Regions from separate parts of the Homo sapiens genome. Here regions 1 and 2 are each linked to region 3. The links come from fine-mapping of genetic effects on gene expression. A gene starts in region 3. Each other region holds a variant in brackets. All regions are shown on one strand. Distances are between the middles of the regions.

Region 1 (2,672 bases), 73 kb after region 3:
TGACTGTACCACTGTACTCCAGCCTAGGTGACAGAGCAAGACTCTGTCTCCAAAAAAAAATAAGGGCCAAGTGCAGTGGCTCATGCCTATAATCCCAGCATGTTGGGAGGCCAAGGCAGGAGGATTGCTTAAGCTCAAGAGAATTTGAGACCAGTCTGGGGCAACAGAGTGAAACACCATCTCTATGTGGAAAAAAAAAAAATTAATTAATTCTCGTTATGTTGCCCAGGATGGTCTTGAACTCCTGGACTCAAGCAATCTTCCTGCCTCAGCCTCCCAAAGTGCTGGGATTACTGGCATGAGCCACCATGCCTGGCCAAGTTCATTCACTTTTGTTGCTGAATAATATTCCATTGTGTATTGGCCGGGCACAGTGGCTCACACCTGTAATCCCAGCACTTTGGGAAGCCAAGGCGGGCAGATCATGAGGTCAGGAGTTCAAGACCAGCCTGACCACCATGGGGAAACCCCGTCTCTACTAAAAATACAAAAAAAATTAACCAGGTGTGGTGACGCGCGCTTGTAATTCCAGCTACTCAGGAGGCTGAGGCAGGAAAATTGCTTGAACCTTTGAGGCAGAGGTTGCAGTGAGCCGAGATCGTGCCACCACACTCTAGCCTGGATGACAGAGCAAGACTCCGTCTCAAAAAAAAAAAAAAAAAAAAAAATCCATTGTGTGAATATACTAAAATGTATTTATCCCATTTATCAGCTGATGAACATTTGGGTTGTTTCCAGTTTTAGACTCTGATGGATGGAGCTGTTATAAACATTCATGTACAAGTCTTTGTGTGGGCAGGTTTTCATTTTTTCTTGGCTATATGCCAAAGAATCATATTGCTACATTATATATCATATATATATATTTGACTTTAGAGTAAACTGCCAGTCTGTTTTCCGAAGTGGTTCTACCATTTTATTTTTTTGAGATGGAGTATTGCTCTGTCACCCAGGCTGGAGTGCAATGGCACAATCAAAGTTTACTGCAGCCTCAAACTTTTGGGCTTAAGCAATCCTCCCACCTCAGCCTCCAGAGTAGCTGGTACTGGAGGTGTGAGCTGCTGTGTCTGGCCATGCTCTATTGTTTTCTTTGCTGTGCAGAAGCTTTTTGTTTGATGTAATCCCATTGGTCTACTTTTGCTTTGGTTGCCTGTGCTTTTGAGGTCCTATCTCAAAAATCCTTGCCTAGGTCAATGTCAGGAAGCATTTCTCCTGTGTTTTCTTCTAGTAGTTTTATAGTTTGAGGTCTTATATTTAAGTCTTTAATCCATTTTGAGTTAATTTTTGTCATTCTTCTGAATGTGGATATCCAGTTTTCCCAGCACCACTTATTGAAGAGACCATCTTTTCCCCAATGTATATTCTTGGCACCTTTACTGAAAATCAGTTGTGTGAATTTATTTCTGGGTTATCTATAC[T/C]GTTCCACTGGTCTATGTGTATGTTTTTATGACTGTACCATGCTGTTTTGGTTACTATAGCTTTGTAGTATATTTTGAACTCAGGTAGTATGATGCCTCCAGCTTTGTTATTTTTGCTTAGGATTGCTTTGGCTATTTGGGGTCTTTAGTGGTTCCAGATAAAATTTTTGGAATTTTTTTTTTTTTTGAGACAGAGTCTCGCTTTGTCACCCTAGCTGGAGTGCAGTGGGGCGATCTTGGATCACTGCAACCTCTGCCTCCCAGGTTCAAGGGATTCTCCTGCCTCAGCCTCCCGAGTAGCTGGGATTTCAGGCGCGTGCCACCACACCTGGCTAATTTTTGTATTTTTAGTAGAGATGGGGTTTCACCACGTTGGCCAGGCTGGTCTCAAAATTCTTGACCTCAAGCAATCCACCTGCCTTCCTCGGCCTCCCAACGTGCTGGGATCATAGGCGTGAGCCACTGCACCCGGCCAGAATTTTTTTCATAATAGTATCTTTAGAAGAACGAAAGTTTTAAAATGTGTGTGTGTGTGCGTGTGTGTCTGTGTGTGTGATGGAGTTTTGCTCTTGTTGCCTAGGCTGGAGTGCAATGGCGTGATCTTGGCTCACCTGGAACCTCCGCCTCCTGGGTTTAGGCGATTCTCCTACCTCAGCCTCCCACGTAGCTGGGATTACAGGCATGTGCCACCATGCCCAGCTAATTTTTGTATTTTTAGTAGAGACAGGATTTCACCATGTTGGCCAGGCTGGTCTCAAACTCCTGACCTCGCATAATCCACCTGTGTCGGCCTCCCAAAGTGCTAGGATTACAGGCATCAGTCACCACACCCGGCCCAAAGTTTTAAATTTTGATGAAATCCAATTTATCATTTTTTTTGTTACTGCTTTTTATGTCCTAAGAAATGTTTACCTACCCCAAAGTAACAAATATTTTCTATTTTTTTCTAGATATTTCATTGTTTTAGCTTTTACATTTAGGTTTAGGATCTATTTTTAATTTCACTGTTTCATTCCTGATAATTGGGGATTTATATTTTCTCTATTTTCTTAGTCTTACTAGGGACTTAACAATTTCATTTTATTTTATTTTATTTTATTTTATTTTATTTTATTTTTGGAGACAGAGTCTTGCTCTGTTGCCCAGGCTGGAGTGCAGTAGCGCAATCGTGGCTCACTGCAACCTCTGCCTCCTGGGTTCAAGCAATTCTCTGCCTCATCCTTCTGAGTAGCCAGGATTACAGGTGCCCGCCAC
Region 2 (2,672 bases), 320 kb after region 3:
AAGAAGAGGTAGAGGATACCCCGGGGAGAAAGAGCTGGTGGCAAGTTTAGAGCCCAGGATGGGACAAGGTTGATCACTGACAGCCACTAAAGATGGGAGAAACAGCTTGGCAGCCAGCACTGGGCACATGGCAGGCAGTTAGTTGCTGGAGGCCAGATACCCAGAGGGAGGAGGTGGTAATGGGCAGTGGTGATAGCGACTAGAGTGAGACAGTGACAGAAGAATGGGAAGAGGCATCCAAGTGGGTCAGAGAAAAGGAGCAGTGTGAAGTGTGGCAGAGGACATGGGGTGTGGAGGGTGGTGGCAAACTTGTAGTCTAAGCTTTGCCTTATGGTTGGGAGAAGAATAATAAAGGCCGAGGTACATTTGCATTTCTTGGTGGTTCCTATCCAACTCCATTCAGTGAGGTTGTTCCTACAGGTACCCAGTCTCCCTTGGAGATGCCCCATGGGTGGTACTGGGGAGAATAGAGACATCTTCCCTCTCCTGACCGGGTGCAGCCGGGTCAAATTCGGTTTGACCCAGCAGACCTCCTTTTTTAGGTTGCTGACTCCCAAGCAGGTGGCCTGAGGAAGTGGAGAAAGATGGACATCATTCCCATCTGGCTTCCTGCCCATCCCAAACCTGGTCCTCCAGCCCCCAATCAATTCTTCTTCTTCCTTTTTTTTTTTTGTTATTGAGATGACGTTTTGCTCTATTTTTTTTTTTTTTTTGAGACGGAGTCTGGCTCTGTTGCCCAGGCTAGAGTGCAGTGGTGCGATCTCAGCTCACTGCAAGCTCCACTCCCGGGTTCAAGCGATTCTCTTGCCTCAGCCTCCCAAGTAGCTGGGACTACAGGCGCCCGCCACCAGGCCCGGCTAATTTTTTGCATTTTTAGTAGAGATGGGGTTTCACCGTGTTAGCCAGGATGGTCTCGATTTCCTGACCTCATGATCCACCCGCCTTGGCCTCCCAAAGTGCTGGGATTACAGACGTGAGCCACTGTGCCCGGCCCCGTTTTGCTCTTGTTGCCCAGGCTGGAGTGCAGTGGCGTGACCTCGGCTCACTTCAACCTCTGCCTCCTGGGTTCAAGTGATTCTCCTGCCTCAGCCTCCCAAGTAGCTGGGATTACAGGCGTCTGCCACCATACCTGGCAAATTTTTTGTATTTTTAGTAGAGACAGGGTTTCACCATGTCAGCCGGGCTGGTCTCAAACTCCTGATCTCAGGTGATCCACCCACTTCGACCTCCCAAAGTGCTGAGATTACAGGCATGAGCCACCACGCCCAGCTGCCCCCAATCAATTCTGAGAGCCACCTTCACCCTGACAGATAAACACATAGACACACACTCCAAAAGGCTGGGATTACAGGCATGAGCCCCTGCGCCCTGCCCAGACCCTGTTCTTAATGTAAGCAAGTGAGTGTGTCTTTGTTTTTTTGTAGGTTTTTTGTTTGTTTTGTTTTTGTTTTTTGGAGACAGTCTCACTCTGTCACCCAGGCTGGAGTGCAGTGGTGTGATCTCT[G/T]CTCACTGCAACCTCTGACTCCCAGGTTCAAGCAATTCTCCCTGTCTCAGCCTCCCAAGTAGGTGGGATTACAGGCACCCACCACCATGCCCGCCTAATGTTTGTATTTTCAGTAGACACGAGGTTTCGCCATGTTGGCCAGGCTGGTCTCGAACTCATGACCTCAGGTGATCAATCCTCCTCAGCCTCCCAAAGTGCTGGGATTACAGGTGTGAGCCACTGTGCCTTACTTCGAATTCACCCAGAAGCAAACCTTGAGGCAAGGATTCAAGTGCAAGAAGTTTATTTGGGAAATGGTCCTAGGAAATACTGACAGAGGAGTGGAAAGTAAGACAAGGGAGGGAAGAGAACCAACGAAGGGTGCATCGTCGAGCAAGTCACTGCAGTGGCTGCTGGTGCTGCCTGGCTGGACACCTCTGGGAGACAGTGTAGAAGGGGACTCCACATTTTCCTTATCCACCCGCTGCCACCTGCCATTGGTTGTGGGCTGCTTCCAGAGGCTGTTGGCTCCCTGGCACACTCACTGCCCCATGTGTGTGCAGAGTCAGTGGCCTGAGCAACCCCTGGTCAGAGACACAGAATCGGGACTGCCAACGGCCCGTGGTAGGCACCACATCCAGAGCTACAGAGGGCAATGGAGAGTTCTGGAGAGTTCTTTGGATGCTCTGAGAGAACTAGGGTAGGGTATGGTGGGCACCAGAAAAAAAAAAAAAGTTCAGTTTGAGAGAATGTCAGACTTAGTGACATCCTTTACCAAGGCTTTCTAGGGATCATGGGCATTGAGTTTGAACTTGCAGATGTGGGAAGGAAAGCCCGCTGGAAACAAAAACCTCCTGTGCCACATCCCACTGCAAGAGCCAGCCTGCTGGGAGGCAGCCTGCTGGGCTCTAAGGCAGAGTTGGGAGGGCAGGAGGCAGGTGAGTGGAGGTCCCTGGTAGCAGTGTCTCCCGGCCTCCCTGCTCCCATGGGGCCCCTGCAGCCACCAGCCTGGCTCCACCCAAAGCCAAAGATGCCCCTTATTTATTATTATTATTATTATTATTATTATTATTATTATTATTGACACAGTCTCGCTCTGTCACCCCAGGCTGGAGTGCAGTGGTATGATCTCCGCTTACTGCAAACTCAGCCTCCTGGGTTCAAGTGATTCTCCTGCCTCAGCCTCCCG
Region 3 (2,672 bases):
GCTTATTTCTGTCTCATGACCCGGCATGGAGTGTGCTGACACCTAAATGTGATTCCACTGTCATCCCCACGTAGGTCTTGAAGCCCTACTGTGTGCCCAGCCCTGGGCTAAACATTAGGAGGCTAGACAGTATCCCCCCTGCAGATATTTTGAGTCACGGAAATGCTTTCTTTGGATGAAACCTAACGTCCCTCCCCTCTCTGAGGCTGGCGCCCCCCCAATATGGGGCTGCTGGGAGGCTTCGTGTGAATGGAATTCTTGTTCTTTGCAGTCCCCAGGCCTGGACAGGCCTGGCAGCTGAGTCTGTCCTCCAGGGGACAGGCTCGGCCACCTTGAGCAAGTCGTGAGGTCTCTTTGGACCTTGTTGCCTGGTGCCTGCCCTCTCCCATCCCCTGGGGGCTGATGAGGCTGGGACGAAGAGAATCTCTTGGTTGTTGGGAGATGGTGTGCTGTGGCCCAGACGGCAGAGGACTGGGCCTCATGCCTGGGCTCGAATCCCAGTTTGCCAGGGCCAGAGCCTCTGTGCCGTCTCCTAGAAGGTGAGCTCCCTGAGGGGCCATGGAATGAATGAATGTCACAGGGCACTAAGAGTGCCCACCTCCCAGGATGCAGCCGCAGGGTGGGGGTGGGGGAGCTGGTCGTGGGTCTAAGCTGTCTGCAGGGGGCAACTCCCAGGCTTAGGTCCTAGGTGCTGCCTGCTGTCCTCTGGGCCCACTCTCTGCCCAGGGACTTGGGCCTTGTGGGGGAGGGACCACAGAAGACTCACCATCTCGTGGGTGGAGTGGCTGAGAGACTGATGGCAGAGACAGAGGGACAGAGAGACGAAGGAGTCAGGGCAGCCAAGTCCCTGCCTGGCCTTCCAGCCCCTAGACTTTGGGAGTGGAGAGGTGGCCGACACCTGTCCCTGCAGAGAGAGGCCAAGGCAGCCCCACCCCCACCCCGAAGGTAGGGAGGGATTTCTGCTGCCCAGACCGAGTGGCTCCTGCCCCAGTGCGGCTCACAGGTCCTTCCTGCCCTGGGGTCCGGGCTTGGCTCTGCCCCTCCAGCGCGGGGGGGAGTTGGGGGCACCGGGTCCCGGGGGTGGGGGGCGTAGCGTCGAGGGTCCCGCCGCGGGGAGCGGGCGCCCGGGGTCCTCGTCCCCGCGACTCCTGCCCCGGCCGCCCCCCTCCCTGGCTCTCCCCGGGGCGGGGCCGGAGCTGGGGTACCTGGCGGCGGCAGCGGCTCGGCGGGCGTGGCGGGCGGACTCGGACCGGGCGGGATGCAGCGGCGGCGGCGGTGGCAGTGGCACAGCGCCCGGCCCAAGCGGCGCCGCTTTATATAGAAACGCCTGGGGCATGCCCAGTGCCCAGCGGGGGCGGCGCGGGGCGGACGGACCGACAGGGACCGATAGGGACCCGCCGGGGACGCGCCCCCCCCCCCCCCCGCCCGTCAGCCACGAAAACGTCCCAGACCTGGGGGCGTGTGGCGGGACACGGACCCAGCAGGAGGAGGGCACGGAGCAGGCAGGGAGAGACGGGGGTCTTCAGAGACACAGAGGAAGTCCCGACAGAGGGCCAGGTACAGATGGACAGGGACTGTCGTCGAGGGTCACAGACGTAGGGCTGCCATGAAGAAAGAGGGAGGCCCACCATGGAGAAGAGATGGAAAGGAGGGGCGGGGAGAGCCGGAGCAGGCAGAGACTGGTACTAGGGCCCGCCCTTAGGGGTGGGGTGCCCGGGAGAGCAGCCTGGAGCACACAGCCCTGAGCCCTACCTTTGGATGGAGGCCGGAGGTCCCAGCCCTGCAGCTTTCTGTCCCAGCTGCCAGCGCTTTGCCCTATTGCACGTTCTCCCAGAGAGGCCCTCCTGGGCCAGGGTCTCCACACATCTGTGCAGCCCCCTCCTCACTTCTGGACCCAGTGGACTTGCACACAGGGGCCAGGATGTCTATAAGATCCAGCCTCTCCTGGTGCGGTGGCTGCCTATAATCCCAGCACTTTGGGAGCCTGAGGCAGGAGAATTGCTTGAACCCAGGAGTTTGTGACCAGCCTGGGCAACATAGCAAGACCCTGTCTCTATAAAAAAAAAAAATTTAAACTAGCTGGTTGAGGTGGTGTGGGCCTGTAATCCCAGCTACTTGGGAGGCTGAGGTGGGAAGATCACATGAGCCCCGGGGGTCGAGACTGCAGTGAGTCCTGGTTGTGCCACTGCACTCCAGCCTGGGCAATACAGTGAGAGCCTATCTCTCTCGCTCGCTCCGCTTTTTTTTTTTTTTTTTTTTTTTTTGAGACAGAGTTTCAGTGTGTCGGCCCAGGCTGGAGTGCAGTGGTGTGATCTCAGCTCACTGCAACCTCTACCTCCCAGGTTCAAGTGATTCTCCTGCCTCAGCCTCCTGAGTGGCTGGGATTACAGGCACACGCCACCACGCCTGGCTAATTTTTGTGTGTTTAGTAGAGACAGGGTTTCGCCGTGTTGGCCAGGCTTGTCTTGAACTCCTGACCTCAGGTGCTCCTCCTGCTTCGGCCTCCCAATGTCCTGAGAATACAGGTGTAAGCCACTGTACCCAGCCGAGACCCTATCTCTCTCTCTTTTTTTTTTTTTTTTTTTTGACCCTATCCCTTTTTTTTTTTTTTTTTTTTTTAAGACAGAGTCTTACTCTGTCACCAGGCTGGAGTGCAGTGGCACAATCTTGGC

Evidence for each region. PIP is the estimated chance that this variant, and not a neighbour inherited with it, causes the effect.
Region 1: its variant is fine-mapped to the expression of CARNS1 in whole blood (INTERVAL, PIP 0.91).
Region 2: its variant is fine-mapped to the expression of CARNS1 in whole blood (TOPMed, PIP above 0.99).

The regions. Positions count from the first base shown.
Region 1 is chr11:67,341,182-67,343,853 of GRCh38, reverse strand. All of the region lies in intron 2 of LOC100130987 (a long non-coding RNA gene), which reads right to left. Among named protein-coding and RNA genes, the nearest start is that of POLD4, 11 kb to the left of the region's middle. The variant T/C (reference allele first, on the strand shown) is at 1,419.
Region 2 is chr11:67,096,505-67,099,176 of GRCh38, reverse strand. No RefSeq gene overlaps it. Among named protein-coding and RNA genes, the nearest start is that of KDM2A, 21 kb to the left of the region's middle. The variant G/T (reference allele first, on the strand shown) is at 1,505.
Region 3 is chr11:67,414,297-67,416,968 of GRCh38, reverse strand. CARNS1 (carnosine synthase 1) reads right to left here and starts at 1,291. Exons shown (of 10, transcript NM_001166222.2): 1 at 1,206-1,291; 2 at 767-793. The coding sequence starts at 769. RefSeq lists an enhancer at 1-553.